2 linked regions of the Homo sapiens genome follow. The protein of the gene in region 1 interacts with the protein of each later gene in a biochemical or structural test. Each region holds a gene or a part of one and is shown in the gene's direction. Other genes may lie near its edges. The genes, in order: TAOK3 and ATF7.

The links.
Region 2: the proteins of TAOK3 (region 1) and ATF7 form a complex in vitro, tested with the Homo sapiens proteins (one large-scale study listed by BioGRID).

Annotation. Positions count from the first base shown.
Region 1 is NC_000012.12:118,198,291-118,202,112, reverse strand, and holds part of TAOK3 (serine/threonine-protein kinase TAO3), read left to right. Parts: intron 1-649; coding exon 650-817; intron 818-2,855; coding exon 2,856-3,062; coding exon of another isoform or gene 3,063-3,089; intron 3,090-3,822. UniProt on the Homo sapiens protein: Serine/threonine-protein kinase that acts as a regulator of the p38/MAPK14 stress-activated MAPK cascade and of the MAPK8/JNK cascade.
Region 2 is NC_000012.12:53,616,091-53,619,912, reverse strand, and holds part of ATF7 (cyclic AMP-dependent transcription factor ATF-7), read left to right. Parts: intron 1-3,822. UniProt on the Homo sapiens protein: Stress-responsive chromatin regulator that plays a role in various biological processes including innate immunological memory, adipocyte differentiation or telomerase regulation.

The DNA of each region.
Region 1 (3,822 bases):
CATTTGCAGCAATACATGTGAACCCAGAAGACATTATGCTAAGTGAGATAAACCAGACACACAAAAAAATAGCATATGATGTCACTTACATGTGGAAAGTAAACAAAGAATAAAACACAAAATGAAAGGTGGTTGAAAGGGATGGGGAATGGAAAGATGAAAGTCAAATGGTACAAAGTTTTAGTTATGTGGGATAAATAAGTGTAGAGATCCAGTGTACAGCATGAGGACTATAGTTGATAATATTGTATTATATCTGGGAAATTTGCTAAGACTAAAGATTTTCGGTACTTTGCCACCAAGAAGTAACTATATGAGATAATAGATATGTTAATTTGCTTAACTGTAGAAATCATTTCACTATATATATGTGTATCAAAACATGTTGCCATATACTTTAAATATGTACAATTTTTAAAAAGAATTCTCACATCCGCAAAATGGGGCTTAAGGAAGAAGAAAAAAGCATAGCTATCTCTTTATGAGATTTACAAAATATGGAAGGACACATGACATGAAAATCATATTTTGTTATTTCTGTAATATCCATAGAACTATTTTATGATTCTCTATTTCCTTTTATATCTGTACCTTGCACCTAAGGACATTTCTTCATTATCAGTTTATTTTTTCCTCCTCCCTCAATCAGCATGACTTTGTTCGACGAGACCGGCCACTACGTGTCCTCATTGACCTCATACAGAGGACAAAAGATGCAGTTCGTGAGCTAGATAACCTACAGTACCGAAAAATGAAAAAAATACTTTTCCAAGAGACACGGAATGGACCCTTGAATGAGTCACAGGAGGATGAGGAAGTAGGTTCAATTTATTTTAGCAGGCACTTATAGAATGCCCACTATGTGAAAAAGTTCTAGACTGGGCACTATGAAAAACTTTTGAAGATAAAAATTAATTGATGCTGTCCGCCTTAAGAAACATGAAGGGTTGTACAAGAGACATTCATAAAATAACACTTATATAAGGCAAAATATGAAAAGTGCTACAGAGGTGTAACCCCATTGCAGGGGTCCATCATGGGGAGAAAATAAGTCTGCTGGTGGGATTAGTGAAGGTTTCCTGGAGGACATGATGTGGGTAGTTTCTGACAAATGGGCATAGGGTGTTCTAGACTCAGAAAGGTGTTGTGCTTTAGGAAGATTATCCTAGCAACAGAGTGTAACATGGATTTGAATGGGCAACATCCTGGCTAATAGTCCATGCAAGAGGTAATAAGGTCAGTGTCGATGCAAATGGGGAAAAGGGAGCACTTTAGAGAAACATCGTAGAGGTAGATTTCATAATCCATGGCTTCTCATTGACAGTGACAGATAAGGAGGAGTTTAAGGTGACTCTGAGCATTGGAGCCTGGGTGGCTAGGAGTATGTCAATACCAAGAACAGAGAAAAAGAACCAGGGAGAAAGAGTAGATTTAGGATGATTTCAGTTTCGTGCCTTTTGAGTTTAAGGTCCTGGCATTATAAACTCTTGCCAGTATACAGATAGAAGTTTTCAGTTAGAGAATCCTTGATGACCTTAGTAAAAGCAGTTTTACAGGACTAGGTAGAATGAATAGTAGATTACTGGAGTTGTATAATTCATGGGAGTTGATAAGAGGGAGACAGGAAAAAATAATTATGTTAAGATTCAGAAATTGGGTTAAGAAGGAAAAGTAAGAGTGGGCAGCATGTAGAGAGATCCATAAATATAAGGCAGGCTTCTTCATCTTTAAATGCAGTAGAGATGGAGCCAGGGCAGAGTCAGAGGCACCGAAGATAGAAGAAAGGGATATAGTTAAAGAGGCAGGATTTCAGAACGTAGACATAACAAGAACAGGAGTATTTTAGCTTTTTAACAGAAAATAAAATAAACATAAAAGTATTTTATCAATAATTTTAAAAATGAAGCTCGGAAAGTTGCATTGAACTATAAAATTTCTTGATTGCATATATAGAAATGATCCCCTTTAATTGGGAAAATAAGTCTGTTAAAAATAATGTATTATCTTCCATTTTATATTACCCAGTAATTTTTTATATTGCCATGGCTAAGTAACAGTTTATTAAAGTTATATGTGTACCATATGGTTTTTTGAGAACAAGGTTTATTTGTAGCTAAATGGATTTAATTTTATTATTCAATCTTATATCAAAAGATATCCCACTGTGATGGATAAATTATATGTTCTGATTATTTTACCACTTTTCAAATAGTAGTCTTTGGGCCAGTAATGATGAATACCAGTATTATTTAACAGATATATATAATAAGATTACAGAGATAAGCATGATAGAATCGCTTGAGGGAGGCAGACTTTAATTACCTGTCCAGGAAAGTAGAATTAATATTTCTGCTTAGATATGAAGTTACTCAATAATGACTTGCAGAGGGAGCATATTGCTTGTCAAATATCTGAAAACTCTTTCCACTCTACTTTTTCAAGTGACCACTGCTGTATTTGAAGATATCCTAGAGCTCACCTGTTTAGTGGCCAGCAGTCTTCCTCTAGCTCCTTGATGTTCCAGAAGGTCCCTTACAAACCTGGCTTGATTTTGCTTACTGAATAGCAACACGATAATATGATAGTGTGTATGACAGGGGAAAGCCCTGGGATGGCAGCATTTGGAGCCTTATGACCCACGTCCAGAATGGCCCCTGGGGAAGGCATAGGAAGCAAATATGAGATGTATGAAAATGGTGGAGGAGTAGTGGAGCCAGTACATAAAAAGTTTGTCTTTGCAGATTGGCAGAAAAGCAACTTGACACTGCAAAATTGAGTGTGCTTGACACTTTTGTCAATGGATTGACTCTTTATCTTCAGTCTTTTTTTCTAACCTCAGTGCCCCATTTTTACAGGACAGTGAACATGGAACCAGCCTGAACAGGGAAATGGACAGCCTGGGCAGCAACCATTCCATTCCAAGCATGTCCGTGAGCACAGGCAGCCAGAGCAGCAGTGTGAACAGCATGCAGGAAGTCATGGACGAGAGCAGTTCCGAACTTGTCATGATGCACGATGACGAAAGCACAATCAATTCCAGCTCCTCCGTCGTGCATAAGAAAGTAGGTTTCTTGGTACCCTCCACAGAGGTGAGCTTTGTCAATCATAGCGAATCCAGTTCAAGTCACTTAGCTTCCAGATGTTTCAGTTACCTTTTTGCAACTGCAGTGTGGTACTAAACCTGGCATGTGACAGTTTTCTTACAGTCAAAAAGTAACAAAGGACTACACAGGCTACATCTGTGCCTATTTCTTCATCTCCCTCTCTCATTACTCTGATGTCCATCATCATCAATAAATAAGTTGAAGAATTTGATAAGTCCTTCTCTAAACCAATAATCTTAATACTGTAGACCTTCAAGTCTTCCTGAGTGTACCTGTTGGTTGTGCCCTTTTAGAAGTATGCTCTTTCAAAAGTATGTTTCTTGGCTGGGCGTGGTGGCTCACATCTGTAATCCCAGCCCTTTGGGAGGCCTAGGCGGGTGGATCACTTGAGGTCAGGAGTTTGAGACCAGCCTGGCCAACATGGCGAAACCCCGTCTTTACTAAAAATACAAAAAATAGCCGGGCCTGGTGACATATGCCTGTAATCCCAGCTACTCGAGAGGCTGAGGCAGGAGAATTGCTTGAACCCAGGAGGCAGAGGTTGTAGTGAGCCGAGATCGCGCCATTGCACTCCAGCCTGGGCAACAGAGTGAGACTCAAAAAAAAAAAAAAAAAAAAAGAAGAAGAAGAAAGAAAGAAACTTGCCTCGGGTAAAAGGAGGACTTACTCTAGCAGGGAGTAAGAAAAGCCTACCTGATGAGGTGACATTTAAGCAGAA
Region 2 (3,822 bases), about 65 Mb from region 1:
TAGCCTCCCAAAGTGCTGAGATTACACGCATGAGCTACTGTGCCTGGCCAGATTTTTTGACATTAGATGAAATTCTGTTTCGGAAACTTTTTTTTTTTTCTGAGGCAGGGTCTCCCTCTGTCTCCCAGGCTGGAGTGCAATGGCGCCATCTTGGCTCACTGCAGTCTCTGCCTCCTGGGCTCAAGTGATTATCCTGCCTCCGCCTCCTGAGTAGCTAGGACTACAGATGTGCGCCACCGTGCCCATCTAATTTTTGTATTTTTTGTAGAGACAGAGTTTCCCATGTTGCCTAGGCTGGTCTTGAATTCCTAAGTTCAGGTGATCTGCCTGCTTTGGCCTCCCAAAGTGCTGGAATTACAGGCTGGGCCCCCATGCCCAGCTTGTTTTGGAAACTCTTCTTTTTTTTTTCTTTTTTTTTTTTTTTTTGACACGGAGTCTCGCTCTGTCTCCCAGGATGCAGTGCAGTGGTGTAATCTCAGCTCACTGCAACTTCTGCCTCCTGGGTTCAAGGAGTTCTCCCCCTCAGCCTCCCAAGTAGCTGGGACTGCAGGCACATGCCACCACGCCTGGCTAATTTTTGTATTTTTAGTAGAGACGTGGTTTCACCATGTTGCAGGCTGGTCTCAAACTCCTGGCCTCAGTTGATGCGCCCACCTGGGCCTCCCAAAGTGCTGGGCTTACAGTGTGAGCCACCTGCCCTTGGAAACTCTTTTAGGAAAAAAACTTTATTCCCTGGACATTTCAACTTAGAAATGAAAGAATTAAACTACTCTCTGAAAACAATTTTATGTAGTTTCCCTGTAATGTTGACATCTCCAATTTAGACCTAACTTTTCATTTTCTTCTTTTTTTTTTTTTTTGGAGACAGAGTCTTGCTATGTCAGCCAGGCTGGAGTGCAGTGGTGCAGTCTTGGCTCACTGCAACCTCTGCCTCCCAGGTTCAAGCAATTCTCATGCCTCAGCCTCCCAAGTAGCTGGGACTACAGGTGCCCACCACTGCGCCCGGCTAACTTTTTGTGTTTTAGTAGAGATGGGGTTTCACCATGTTGCTCAGGGTGGTCTCGAACGCCTGAGCTCAGGCAATCCACCTACCTCAGCGTCCCAAAGTGCTGGGATTACAGGCAAGAACCATCGCGTCCGACCCTAACTTTTCATTTTCTGTTTGGAATAAAAACCTATACCAACTATAAACACACACACACACACACAATTGCCATTTATAATTGTAGTTTATTGGCAAGGATGGTCTAAGTTTGCCAGGTCTAAGTGTTGTAGGTGAAGGGTGCTACAAATGAGATACAACTTCAGAAGACATCTCTAGGGACTAAAGACTTTACATTGGCAGGCAGCAACTTTTCCTGCTTGTTAATTTTAGACCTGACAGTTGAATTTATGTTTGAGCAATTTTAGCTGATAAATGCATTTTTTAAGTACCTTCCTCTTTTGGCATTTTAATTTTTACTTTCGTTTTTAAAAAATTGCAAATCGTGAATGAATGTGCATATTAAATTAGCATGCTACTAGGCAGGGAAACAATGCATTTTCTTTTGATACCTTCTCATCCATCTGATAGCATTAGTTATGAATTCTCCTGGAAAGCAGAAGGATGGACTCGATAACCCCTCAAGGTTCTTTTCAGGCCAGAACTTTCATAAATAGAAGTTAAGATCAAGGAACTTACTCTTGAAGAATCAGGAAGAAAAATAGACTGTAAAGAAAATAAAATTGAAATGTTTCTGTCGACCCAGTGGGAATGGATAAACACAAGTAAGGAACATAAATGACGAGAAATAATAACTCCTTTGAGCTAAAAACAAAACAAAAATCAACAACAACAAATATTTTGCATTGGAGTCATTTTATATCTTAAAAATATTTTATCATGACATTTTCTCTTCGACATTTCCCTTGTGGACACTTTGTGTTGAAAGAATGTTGGGTTTTGTTCCTGTTAAATCATAGTATTTTGTTTCCTTCCTTTCTCTTGTTTGTCCTTTTGTTTAAAAACTTTTTTTTTTTTTTTGGTCTTCTGTATAATGGACTGACTGCCTGTTTACAATGAGGCAAGATTCAATTCAATTTTGAAAGTATTTGCTATATCACTTCCTCGGAAATGAAGGATGAGTGTTACAATTCAGGAAAGGTTGTATGAAAAGATAAACTTGTATAAAAAGATAAGCTTTTAAAATTTTGTAGGCAAACATTTAACGAAGGTTCCCAACCAAAGCAAAGGTGAGTTAGTATAGTAGTCTTTTTTTTATTATTATTTAAAAAAATTTTTTTTGAGACATAGTCTTGCTCTGTCACCCAGGCTGGAGTGCAGTGGCACAATCTTGGCTCACTGCAGCCTCCGGCTTCTGATTACAAGCAATTCTTCTGCCTCAGCCTCCCGAGTAGCTGGGATTACAGTTGCCTGCCACTATGCTTGGCTAATTTTTGTATTTTTAGTAGAGACGGGGTTTCAACCATGTTGGCCAGGCTGCTCTCGCACCCGTGACCTCAAATGATCCACCCACCTTGACCTCCCCAAGTGCTGGGATTACAGGTGTGAGCCACTGTGCCTGGCCTAGTATAGTAGTTTTAAGAAGGACATAATACATAAGCATTGGTTGGGCACAGTAGTTCACACCTATAATCCTAGCACTTTGGGAGGCTTGGGCCCAGGAGTTCGAGACCAGCCTGGGCAACATGACAAAACCCTGTCTCTATAAAAAATACAAAAATTAGCTGAGTGTGGTGACATGCGTTTGTAGCGCCAGCTACTTGGGAGGCTGAAGCGGGAGGATTGCTTCAGCTCAGGAAGCAGAGTTTGCAGCCAGCCCAGGTTGCAGCACTGCACTCCAGCCTGGGCAACAAAGTGATACCCTGTCTCAAAGAAAGAAATAATACATAAGTTTACAGTAAAACTCATTACAAACCCTTGACTTCAGGTTGTTAGCTTTTTCTCACCTTTTTTTTTTTTTTTTTGGAGACAGAGTCGTTCTCTGTTGCCTAGGCTGGAGTACAGTGGCATGGTCTCGGCTCACTGCAATCTCCGCCTCCCAGGTTCAAGCAGTTCTCCTGCCTCAGCCTCCTGAGTAGCTGGGATTACAGGCACACGCTGCTACACCTGGCTAATTTTTTAGGTATCTTAGTAGAGATGGGGTTTCACTGTGTTGCCCAGGCTGGTCTCGAACTCCTGAGCTCAGGCAATCCACCCGCCTCAGCCTTCCAAAGTGCTGGGATTACAGGAATGAGCCACCGCACCCGGCCACGCCTTTTCTCATCTTTTGGCAATTTTAATCCTCAGTGTTCCCATACATTTGAAACCAGAATGTGCATAAAGTTTCTTTTTTTCTTTTCAATATTGTATCTCTTCTTAATAAATATCATGAAAGTCTATGAAAGTGTAGGTTGGGTGAGTTGGCCCACACATGTAATCCCAACACTTTGGGAGGCTGAGGTGGGCAGATTGCTTGAGCTTGGAGTTCGAGACCAGCCTGAGCAACACAGGGAGACCCCATCTCTACAAAAAATTTTAAAATTAGCTGGGCTTGGTGGTGCACGCCTTTAGTCCTAGCTACTTGGGAGGCCAACGCGGGAGGATTACTTGAGCCTGGGAGGCGGGGGTTTCAGTGAGCTGACATCACGCCACTGCACTCTAGCCTGGGTAACAGAGTGAGACCCTGGCTCAAAAAAACCCAAAAGTAAACTAACGGGAGCCAAGATTTAGCTTAGAAAGTCATTTCATGAGCTTGTGGCATGGACATCTGTGGTCACATGTTTTGCCACAGCCCCACCTTCTCACAAAACCCAGCTTGCTTCCTTTGAGTGGAATTCCTT